Linked DNA regions of Homo sapiens: region 2 is linked to region 1. The links come from fine-mapping of genetic effects on gene expression. A gene starts in region 1. The other region holds a variant in brackets. All regions are shown on one strand. Distances are between the middles of the regions. Region 1 holds the start of HHIPL1 (HHIP like 1). Region 2 overlaps HHIPL1 (HHIP like 1).

Evidence for each region. PIP is the estimated chance that this variant, and not a neighbour inherited with it, causes the effect.
Region 2: its variant is fine-mapped to the expression of HHIPL1 in spleen (GTEx, PIP above 0.99).

The regions. Positions count from the first base shown.
Region 1 is chr14:99,643,259-99,647,643 of GRCh38, forward strand. It overlaps HHIPL1 (HHIP like 1), which reads left to right and starts at 1,871. Exons shown (of 9, transcript NM_001127258.3): 1 at 1,871-2,204. The coding sequence starts at 1,950.
Region 2 is chr14:99,668,006-99,672,390 of GRCh38, forward strand. It overlaps HHIPL1 (HHIP like 1), which reads left to right. Exons shown (of 9, transcript NM_001127258.3): 7 at 217-298; 8 at 4,312-4,385. Among named protein-coding and RNA genes, the nearest start is that of CYP46A1, 14 kb to the right of the region's middle. RefSeq lists enhancers at 1,072-1,613, 2,555-3,154, 3,155-3,756, 3,757-4,356. The variant A/C (reference allele first, on the strand shown) is at 2,233.

The DNA.
Region 1 (4,385 bases):
CGAACTCCTGACCTCGGGTGATCCGCCCGCCTCAGCCTCCCAAAGTTCTGGGATTACAGGCGTGAGCCACTGTGCCCGGCTCCTGACTGTGACTTTTCTTATCTTTTTTTCATGCCTTGTTGTTTTTCTGGAAAGCCAATCAGGATGTACTAGATAACAGAAACCGAGGTAAATAGGTATTAGGGTGAGGATTTATGTTACTCTGGCTGGGGCTGGGCTGTGTTTGACATTTTCTGTGGCTGTAGGAGCCCAAACCTCATGGCTGTGGCCCAGGCTCTGTGTCACTTCCACCTCTGTACACTCATCTGGAGCCCTGTGTTGATGTGTGACTATCACCCAGTTCTGAGTCCCAGCTGGGAAGTAGGCGCCATCGTGCCCTCCGATTCCATCCTGGCTCTGCCTATTCCCAGCTGTCTGTGCAGGAAGCCGTTGCAGGCCGCATTTCCCACCCTAGCAGCCCTCTGCTAGGTTCAGCCAATGAAAGCCACAGGTGGGAGTTGGAGGGGAAGTGGCAGGGAGAAGCCGGGGTATTTCTCCTCCTCTGTCTGTGCAGAATCTCTGACAGTGGCTATCTCCAGCTGTGGCCAGACAGGCCTTGTGAGGGTCCAGCTTTGACAAGGTGACCATAGCTCCTTGGCTCCAGTAACATCTGCTCTTCCTGCATCAAGGACCTGGGGACTGTTCCTACTGTTGCTGATCTCAAGGTTACTTCACTGAGCCCTGTATGGCTTCTTAGCCTCTTTGGCTTCAAGTCCCTGCGTTAAATTCCCCGTGTTTCAAATACTCAGAGATGTTTGGCTGTGCGGAGACCCTGACTCTTACACTGCACCTGTTCAGGCCAGAGCCACAGACCTCTGAGTGCTCCAGCCCTGCCGCATCTCATCCACCCCCAGCTCTGCCAGGAGCATGGGCCCAAAGACAGAAACATGATCCCCCAGGACAGTCCAAAGAGACCTGCAGAGGACGGATGTGTGCGTTGGGGCCATGAAGATGGAGTAGGAGCTCACTGGACAGAGAAGATGGGGAAGGACACTCCAGGGAGAAGCAAACGCTGAGGTCCACTTGAGAAAAATGCCTGGGTGGTTTTGGTGCTGTGAGATTCTAGGGTAGGTGAGACAGTGTGTGTGTGTTTGTCTGTGTGGGTGGTTTTGGTGCCATGAGATTCTGGGGTAGGTAAGACAGCGTGTGTGCGTCTGTATGTGTGTGGGGGGGTGGGGCGGGGTTGGGTCTGAATCTCCAGCGGGGGCAGCGGAACAAAGGGCTGGATGCCCATCCCAGGAGGTAGATTCATCAGTGCTCCCTATGCGAGAGTGGAAGTGGGGAGCCCCAGTGGGTCCTGGGCTGCAGGAGAATCCGCTGCCCCAGGAGCAGAGACTGGGAAGAAGCCCACAGTAAGGGCAAAGGGTGGACTGCGGAGACTGCTCCGTCCTCCCTCCCCACCCCTACGCCAGGTTTCACTTCTCCCTGAGAGTCCTGGGGCAACACCCCCTGTTCTTTCCCTCGCACCCCCATTTTTAAAATGTTACGTGGGAGCTTTCGGGGACGGGCTGCGGGCATCCGTTTCCCTAGCCCAGTGGGAGGTGGAACCGAAGCCCAGGAGTCCAGGCCTCTGGCCCTGCGCCTCCCTGGCTAAAGAGCGCCCTGTGGGGAGGAAGCAGGGCCCCAGGCGGAACCGGGAAAACACACCGGGGCTTTAAACAGACCGGGCCACTCCCATCGAATTTGGAAAGCGGTTAAAAGAGGTCGTGCCGCATTCTGCGCCGCGTCCCTCTTCCTTCAGTCCCGCCGAGTGTCCCCGACCAGAGGTGACCTCCTAGAAGGGGAGGTCCCCAAACTCGAGGCCCTGCGTGTAGGGAAGGGGAGCGCCCGCCCCTTCCCTGCCGCCGCGAGCGCCCCGGGAGGGGACCGGGGCTGCCGTCCCTCCGCCTCTTCCCCCGCGGGGCGTAGCGATGGCCCGGGCCAGGGCCGGGGCGCTGCTGGCGCTTTGGGTGCTCGGGGCCGCCGCGCATCCGCAGTGCCTGGACTTCAGGCCGCCCTTCCGGCCGACGCAGCCGCTGCGCCTCTGCGCGCAGTACTCGGACTTCGGCTGCTGCGATGAGGGGCGCGACGCCGAGCTGACCCGCCGCTTCTGGGCCCTGGCGAGCCGCGTGGACGCCGCCGAGTGGGCCGCGTGCGCCGGCTACGCGAGGGACCTGCTGTGCCAGGTGAGCGGGCGCGCGGCCACCGGGCGGGGCGGGGCGCGGGAGGCCGAGTCCTGGAGCAGAGATCGGAACCCCGCGGGGGCGAGGGCCAAGAGTGGGCGGCGGACTCGGGAACTCTAAGCCCCAACAGGGAGTCATTTGGCACGGGGCGGGGAGACCGCGCATCCCAGGACGACTCTTGGCTTTGCCATTCATTAGTTTTGTGACTTGGGCCTTCTCGGGGCCTCAGTTTCCCCTCCTGAAGCAGGAAGGACGGACGGACGGACAGATGATGTCATCATTTCCTCAGAGGTTGGGGGCTCTTCTGCCCCAGTCCCCTGGAGTCGACCCCTCAGCGTCCCACCCCGAGCAGCTGCACCCTTGTCGGGGTACCAAGGTGGAGAGGCATCTGTCCCGGTCAGTGCTCCTTTGTGTTGTCCCCGGGGCAGTGAAAGCAGGGGGCCCTGGCGTGGGCGTGGTCAACGTGTGGCCCGGGTTTGTTGAGGGGGTTGGGGCCACTGTCCCCCACGAGCGTCTCACCCCCATCCTGATGCCCTTGCCACTTCCGCCACCACCTCTGTGGGTGCTGTGCCCTCTCCTGGGGATGGCGCCCTGGCCTGCAGAAGCTCTCTCAAGACTGAGCGACAGCTCTTTGTTGAAGCCCCTGGGCCCCCCATCTTCCCTCTGAGGGTGGAGCCCCTGCTTCTGTGCACACCTGGTGGTGCCACCGCTATTTGTTTTCCTCTTGTGGGAGTCTGAGGCCCCAGGGCCTGACCACACCCAAGTGGGCAAATGTTGCCTGGCTGAATGCAGAAATGGAGCAGGACGGGCAGCCCCAAGGCATTCCTGCCTCAGCATCTGGGCAGTGAGAGGCCTGGGGTGGAGAGGCCCCAGGGGCCAGGGCCGTGTCCCAGCCTTCGGCCAGCAGGGGCAGGTGGTGTGGGGAAGGGCAAGAAGGCTGACTTGGAGTTGGAGTTTGATCCTGGCTCTGTCACTTCCCCAGCTTCGTGACCTGGGCAGGTCACTGCTGCACCTCACAATATCTTTAAAATGAAGCTGAGTATGGTGGCTTATGCCTGTAATCCCAGCACTTTGGGAGGCCAAGGTGGGCAGATCACTTGAGGTCAGGAGTTCGAGACCAGCCTGGCCAACATGGCGAAACTCCATCTCTACAAAAATACAAAAATTAACTGGGCATGTTGGGGAGCTCCTGTAATCCCAGCTACTCGGGAGGCTGAGGCAGGAGAAGCACTTGACTCTGGGAGGCAGAGGTTGCAGTGAGCCAAGATTGAGCCACTGCACCCCAGCCTGGGCAACAGAGCAAGACTCCGTCTCAAAAATATAATATAATATAATATGATATGATATGATATGATATGATATGATATGATATGATATAATATAATATAATATAATATAATATGATATAATATGATACATAAAATAAATAAAATAAAACCTTAACCACCCCCCTGGGTGGCCATGCAGATTAAATGCCACATACTAGGGGCTCGGTAAGTGTTTGCAGTTGGATTTCTCGAGGGCTTCCTTGGCCCTCACTGGCTGCCCAGCCCTGGGAAGGGTCCAGGTGAGGCTTGGAGCCCGAATCAAGGAAGACTCAGAGGCAGGCAGGGACTTGCCCAGTGGTCGCACAGCCCAGCGGTGGTTGAGGTGGGGACATGGACCACACTCGCTGAAGCGAGCTCATATCTTAGGTGGGAAGCAGTAGACTCTGGGAGGATGAGGAGGGGGCCCTGGGGAGCTCCAGAATGCAACAGAGGGTGGGCTGGCCACCTTTAGGTGGGCTCTGCTGGACTCCCATGCTGTACACCTCAAGGGCACGGGAATGGTCTGGCCAAGCGTCTGCCTCCCTCACCAGCCTGGGGGCTCCTCAGGACCAGGTCCTTTGGTCTCCCTACCCCCATCACATAGCAGAGTTCCTGCATCCATGCCACATTTGTCTATTGAGCACTTGCTATGTGCCAGGCTCAGCACGGCAGTGAGGTGGGCAGGTGGATGGAGGAAGGGAAGGGTCAGTCCTGATGCTGTCCCCTGGCAGGTTTCTTGGGAAACTTCCCAGGACAGCCTGGCTTTAAGCAACCAGCAGTTAGCAGGAGTGACCACTAACACTTCAGCCCAGGCGTCTCTGAGAGTGACCTCATGTCTGGAGTGAGCTTAGAGACGGCGGCTGAGGCTGGGTTATGG
Region 2 (4,385 bases), 25 kb after region 1:
GGCTCCAGAGGCCCTTGGGTACAACCCAACTCCTCACCCAGCCTCACTTCCTCTTTCTGGGGACTGGACAGCTAGACTGAGCTGGGATGCCTCACGTGATGGCTAGCTGGGGTTGGGGTCTATTTCCAAGCCTGCAGGGAGCCGGGTGGTGAGGCGGGGCTGGCTGGGACGGTATTCCAGGTGGGGGTCTCACTAGTCACTTTGTTCTGTCCAAAGGGGAGCTGTACTTCATGTCGACAGGGGAGCCGAGTGCCACAGCTCCACGCGGAGTTGTCTACAAAATAATTGACGCATCCAGGTGAGTCCCAGCCTCCAGGACAGGGAGCTCCTGCTGTCTGTCAGGCCTCTTAGCTCCACGGGCTTGTCCCCTCCGCCTCGCCCTCAGGTGGGTGGTATTAATCCCCATTTTCAGACAAGAACCCTGAGGCCCAGAGAGGGACGTGATTTGCCTCAGTTCCTCCGGCAAGGGGCAGACCCAGGATTCAGACCCGGGTCTGCACGCCTCAAAGCACAGGTCTATTAGGATAGGAGGGAGCTGGAGAGGTGACTGGGGCCGCGGGCCGAGGCTTCACTTGGCTTTCTTGCCTGGCCCGCCCTCCCTGCGTCTTCCTCCTGTCTAGCAGGCCCCTCATTCCTCATTTCCTGGGCTGCCCCTGCACCCCCACACCCCAGCCCCCAATTTGCCTCTGTGATGCCTCCCAGATGACACCCTGATCCCTGTGTGTCCCCGCCCCGTGCCTGCCCTTCCTCCTGTGGTCCATCTTCCACTGGGGAAAACACATTGGGGCTCCCTTCGCCGGCTCCATCTCCCCGGCTTCCCTTCTAGCTGTAAGGCCAGAAGCGCCATGCCCGGCTATGTCCCAGCTCCTTCCGTGTGCAGCTCATTGACGTCTCAGCCGTTCATTTTACAGTGGTGGAAATGAGCACAAAGACACGAAGTCATGGGCCTGGGGCCCAGGGCCAGGGTGGGGCCCAGGCCACTGGCTCCAGAGCCCTGCCCTAACCCCTTGGCTGTGTGCCTTCACCTCACCCTCTTCAAGCACCTTCCCCAACCCACGTTGCCCTCCAGGCCTCTGTCCAGCCCTTCCTCAGCTCTCATCACTCAGACTTGGTAATCCCTGGGCTACACGACTGACTCTCTCCCAGCTGCTCTGGGAGTCTCAGGGCCAAGCCTGTATCTCTTCACTCTGCAGAGGCCGCCCAGGTGCTGGGAATGGCACGGAGCAGAGACTCAGGAACACTTGATGAATAAATGAGTGATCAGCTTTCTAAGCTGCTTCTCAGCCCTTAGATTTTCGCTTCTCTGCTGGCTTCCACAGCAGTCTGAACGTCTCTTCAACACTGGGTACGGACACAGCTTGTACTTGTCTCTAACGCAAGGCCTGAGGTTGCACTCCGAGAATCCACACCTTTGGCAGACTCTAGGAGTCCCCACTGTGTTTAGTTACCCTAAACTTTGAGACACACCAGGTTTGGGAAAATCCTGAAACAAGCTGGCATGTTTCACGTTCTTGGGAGGCAGATGGGAGGAGTTCAAGTCCAGCCCGGGCAACACAGGGAGAACTTGTCTCTAAAAAAATTAATTAATTTTACAAAAAGAAAAATTCTAAAACACTTATTGTGCTTAAAATCTTTTACACTGGGCTCAGTGGCTCACACCTGTAATCCCAGCACTTTGGGAGGCTGAAGTCGGAGAGTTTCATGAGCCCAGAAATTCAAGACCAGCTTGGTCAACATAGCAAGACCCCATCTCAACAAAAAATTAAAAAATTAGTCTGGTGTGCTGGCGCACATCTATAGTCCCAGCTACTTGGGATGCTAAGGTGAGAGGATCACTCGAACTCAGGAGGTCGAGGCTGCAGTGAGCTATGATCGCACCACTGCCCTCCAGCCTGGATAACAGAGCAAGACCCTATCTCAAAACAAAAGACATTTTAGAATAGTTTCAGATTTACAGATAAGTTGTAAAAACTACAGTGTTTCCTGTATGCCCCTTACCCTGTGTCCCTTATTATGAACACCTCACATTACCATAGTGTACATGTCAAAATTAGTCAACTAGTATCAGTCCATCACTATTAATTAAACTCTACAACTCCAGTCTTTTACTTTTTTTTTTTTTTTGAGACGGAGTCTTGCTCTGTCTCCCAGGCTGGAGCGCAGTAGCATGATCTCAACTCATTGCAACCTCTGCCTCCCGGGTTCAAGTGATTCTCCTGCCTCAGCCTCCCG[A/C]GTAGCTGGGACTACAGGTGCCTGCCACCATGCCTGGCTAATTTTTGTATTTTTAGTAGAGATGGGGTTTTGCCATGTTGGCTAGGCTGGTCTTAAACTCCTGACCTCAAGTGATCGGCCCACCTCGGCCTCCCAAAGTGCTGGGATTACGGGTGTGAGCCCCCACGCCCAGACTCCACACTCTTTTTCAAAGGATGTTTCTAGTTGTTCCCCAATGCCCTTTTCCTGTTCCAGGATCCTGTGTTGCCTTTAGTGGTTGCGTCTGCTTAGCTTTCCCCTGTTTGTGTCAGCTTCTCACTTTCCTTGTTTACCAGACTTTTTTTTTTCTTGTTTAAGAGCACACATAAATTATTGACATGACTTTTTATCAAATAAAACATAATCACTTCCTGCTTCCATCCCTTCCTTCTCATTTCCCTGAGGTCCCATCCATTGTTATCTATGCAGCGCCAGGATTTATGTGGTTGTATTTGGATCACACGCAGACTTGGTTCTTTTTCCTTCATTTATGCCCATTTTGTCTAAACGTTGCAAACATCGCCCTCCAAAAAACCATTTCTAATGGCTGCTTGATTTTCTGCTGAGTCACTATAACCCATTCCTTGGAATTTTAGGTTATTTCCAATTTTCAAAAAAGAATGCTCCTCTGAGGAAATGCTACATATACCAAGTGAGTGCCTAATTCATGCCAGATGTTGCCTTAGAGCCATCATCTTCGGTTTTTCCAATCCCGTTTCCCTATTGGCTTGTTGTCCCCATGTCATAGAGAGGGACCCCAACGAGACTTAAGGAGTTCTCTCGCTCACGGTCTTGTGTTAGGAGCCAGAAGTGGGCTAGATTCCTCCTCCCGCCCTGACCCTTCTCCCTTCATTCTCCTGTCTTGGAATAACTGTTTCTTTGCACCCACACATATTACACAGAGGTCCCATTATAGTACATTTGGAAAATGAAATAAATGGGGAGTGGAGGAGGTAGGGTCAGGTCATCTGTTACTACCCACACGTAACCACTGTGGCATTTTGGGGTGGATATCCTACCCTTTTGCATAACAAAGACTTTTAATGCAATTTCCTTAAGGAACAAAAGCCCCACTGGGTCTGTCTGAAGTGTGTGGATGTTCTCTGGAGGTCAGAGCAAGAAAAAAACCTCGCTTTTCCTGCAGCTTTGAGAAGCGTATGTGCCTGGTTGTGTTTCTGCAGCCTCTGGGGACAAAGACCCTTGTCCCTCTTTTGTGTCCCTCTTCGGCCAAGCCTGTCTGGAGGCCACTCCGTGTCACGTGGCTGCTTCACCCCTTGGCCTTTCCACTGGAATCCTATTGAAGTCGTGGGCCCACGTGGGTCTGTCCTGGAATGGGGTCATTCCCAAAGAATCACAGATCGACGGCCAAAAACTAATTAAAACGGAATTCCATTCCCTATTGTGCCCTTAAAAATGTCAAAGGAGACCCAATTCCTAGCCCTGGCACCCTTCTCTGACTCTTTTGTCTCCCTGCTCTCTCACACCCCACATGCCAAGGCCCCAAATCCCTCAGCTCTGCCTCCAGGCACAAGGCTTGCTTTCCTTACCACCCCCGCCGCCCCCGTCCTTTAGGTGGTTCCAGGCAGAGGAGCCTCTCAGATCCTGCATCAGAAATCCAGGAACCAGAGGGGCAGAGAGAGACCCTCCTCAAAGGCTGTAGGGCTGGTGGGAGAGGGTGGCGGGCAGGAATCAGGCTGCATTTCAGGAATCAGACGGCAGGCTGTGGGAGGAGAGAGACTGGCATTTGTTCACACCCTGAGGACAGAGTCCATGCTCTGGATTAGAAATGTCCTGGGAAAGAGTAAGCCTCCAGCCCTGGTGCTATTCCAGCAGAGGCTGAGCGTGCAGCCGGTAGGCTGTTATAGGGGATTTATGCCCTGGAGCTCTTAGAATCCTGGGGGCATGGAGTGGGCAGGGAAGCTGCAGGCCACACAGTAGGTGCATGGTGAATGGCCGCCTGTTACTATCGTTGCTGTTCATACCTGCCTCACTGTAGAGAAAAGGCACCCTCAGGGTGGGCTCCCAGGGTGAGACTCATAACCTCCTGTGTGTCGTTGGCAGGCGGGCACCACCTGGCAAATGTCAGATCCAGCCTGCTCAGGTGAAGATCAGAAGCCGTCTCATCCCCTTTGTGC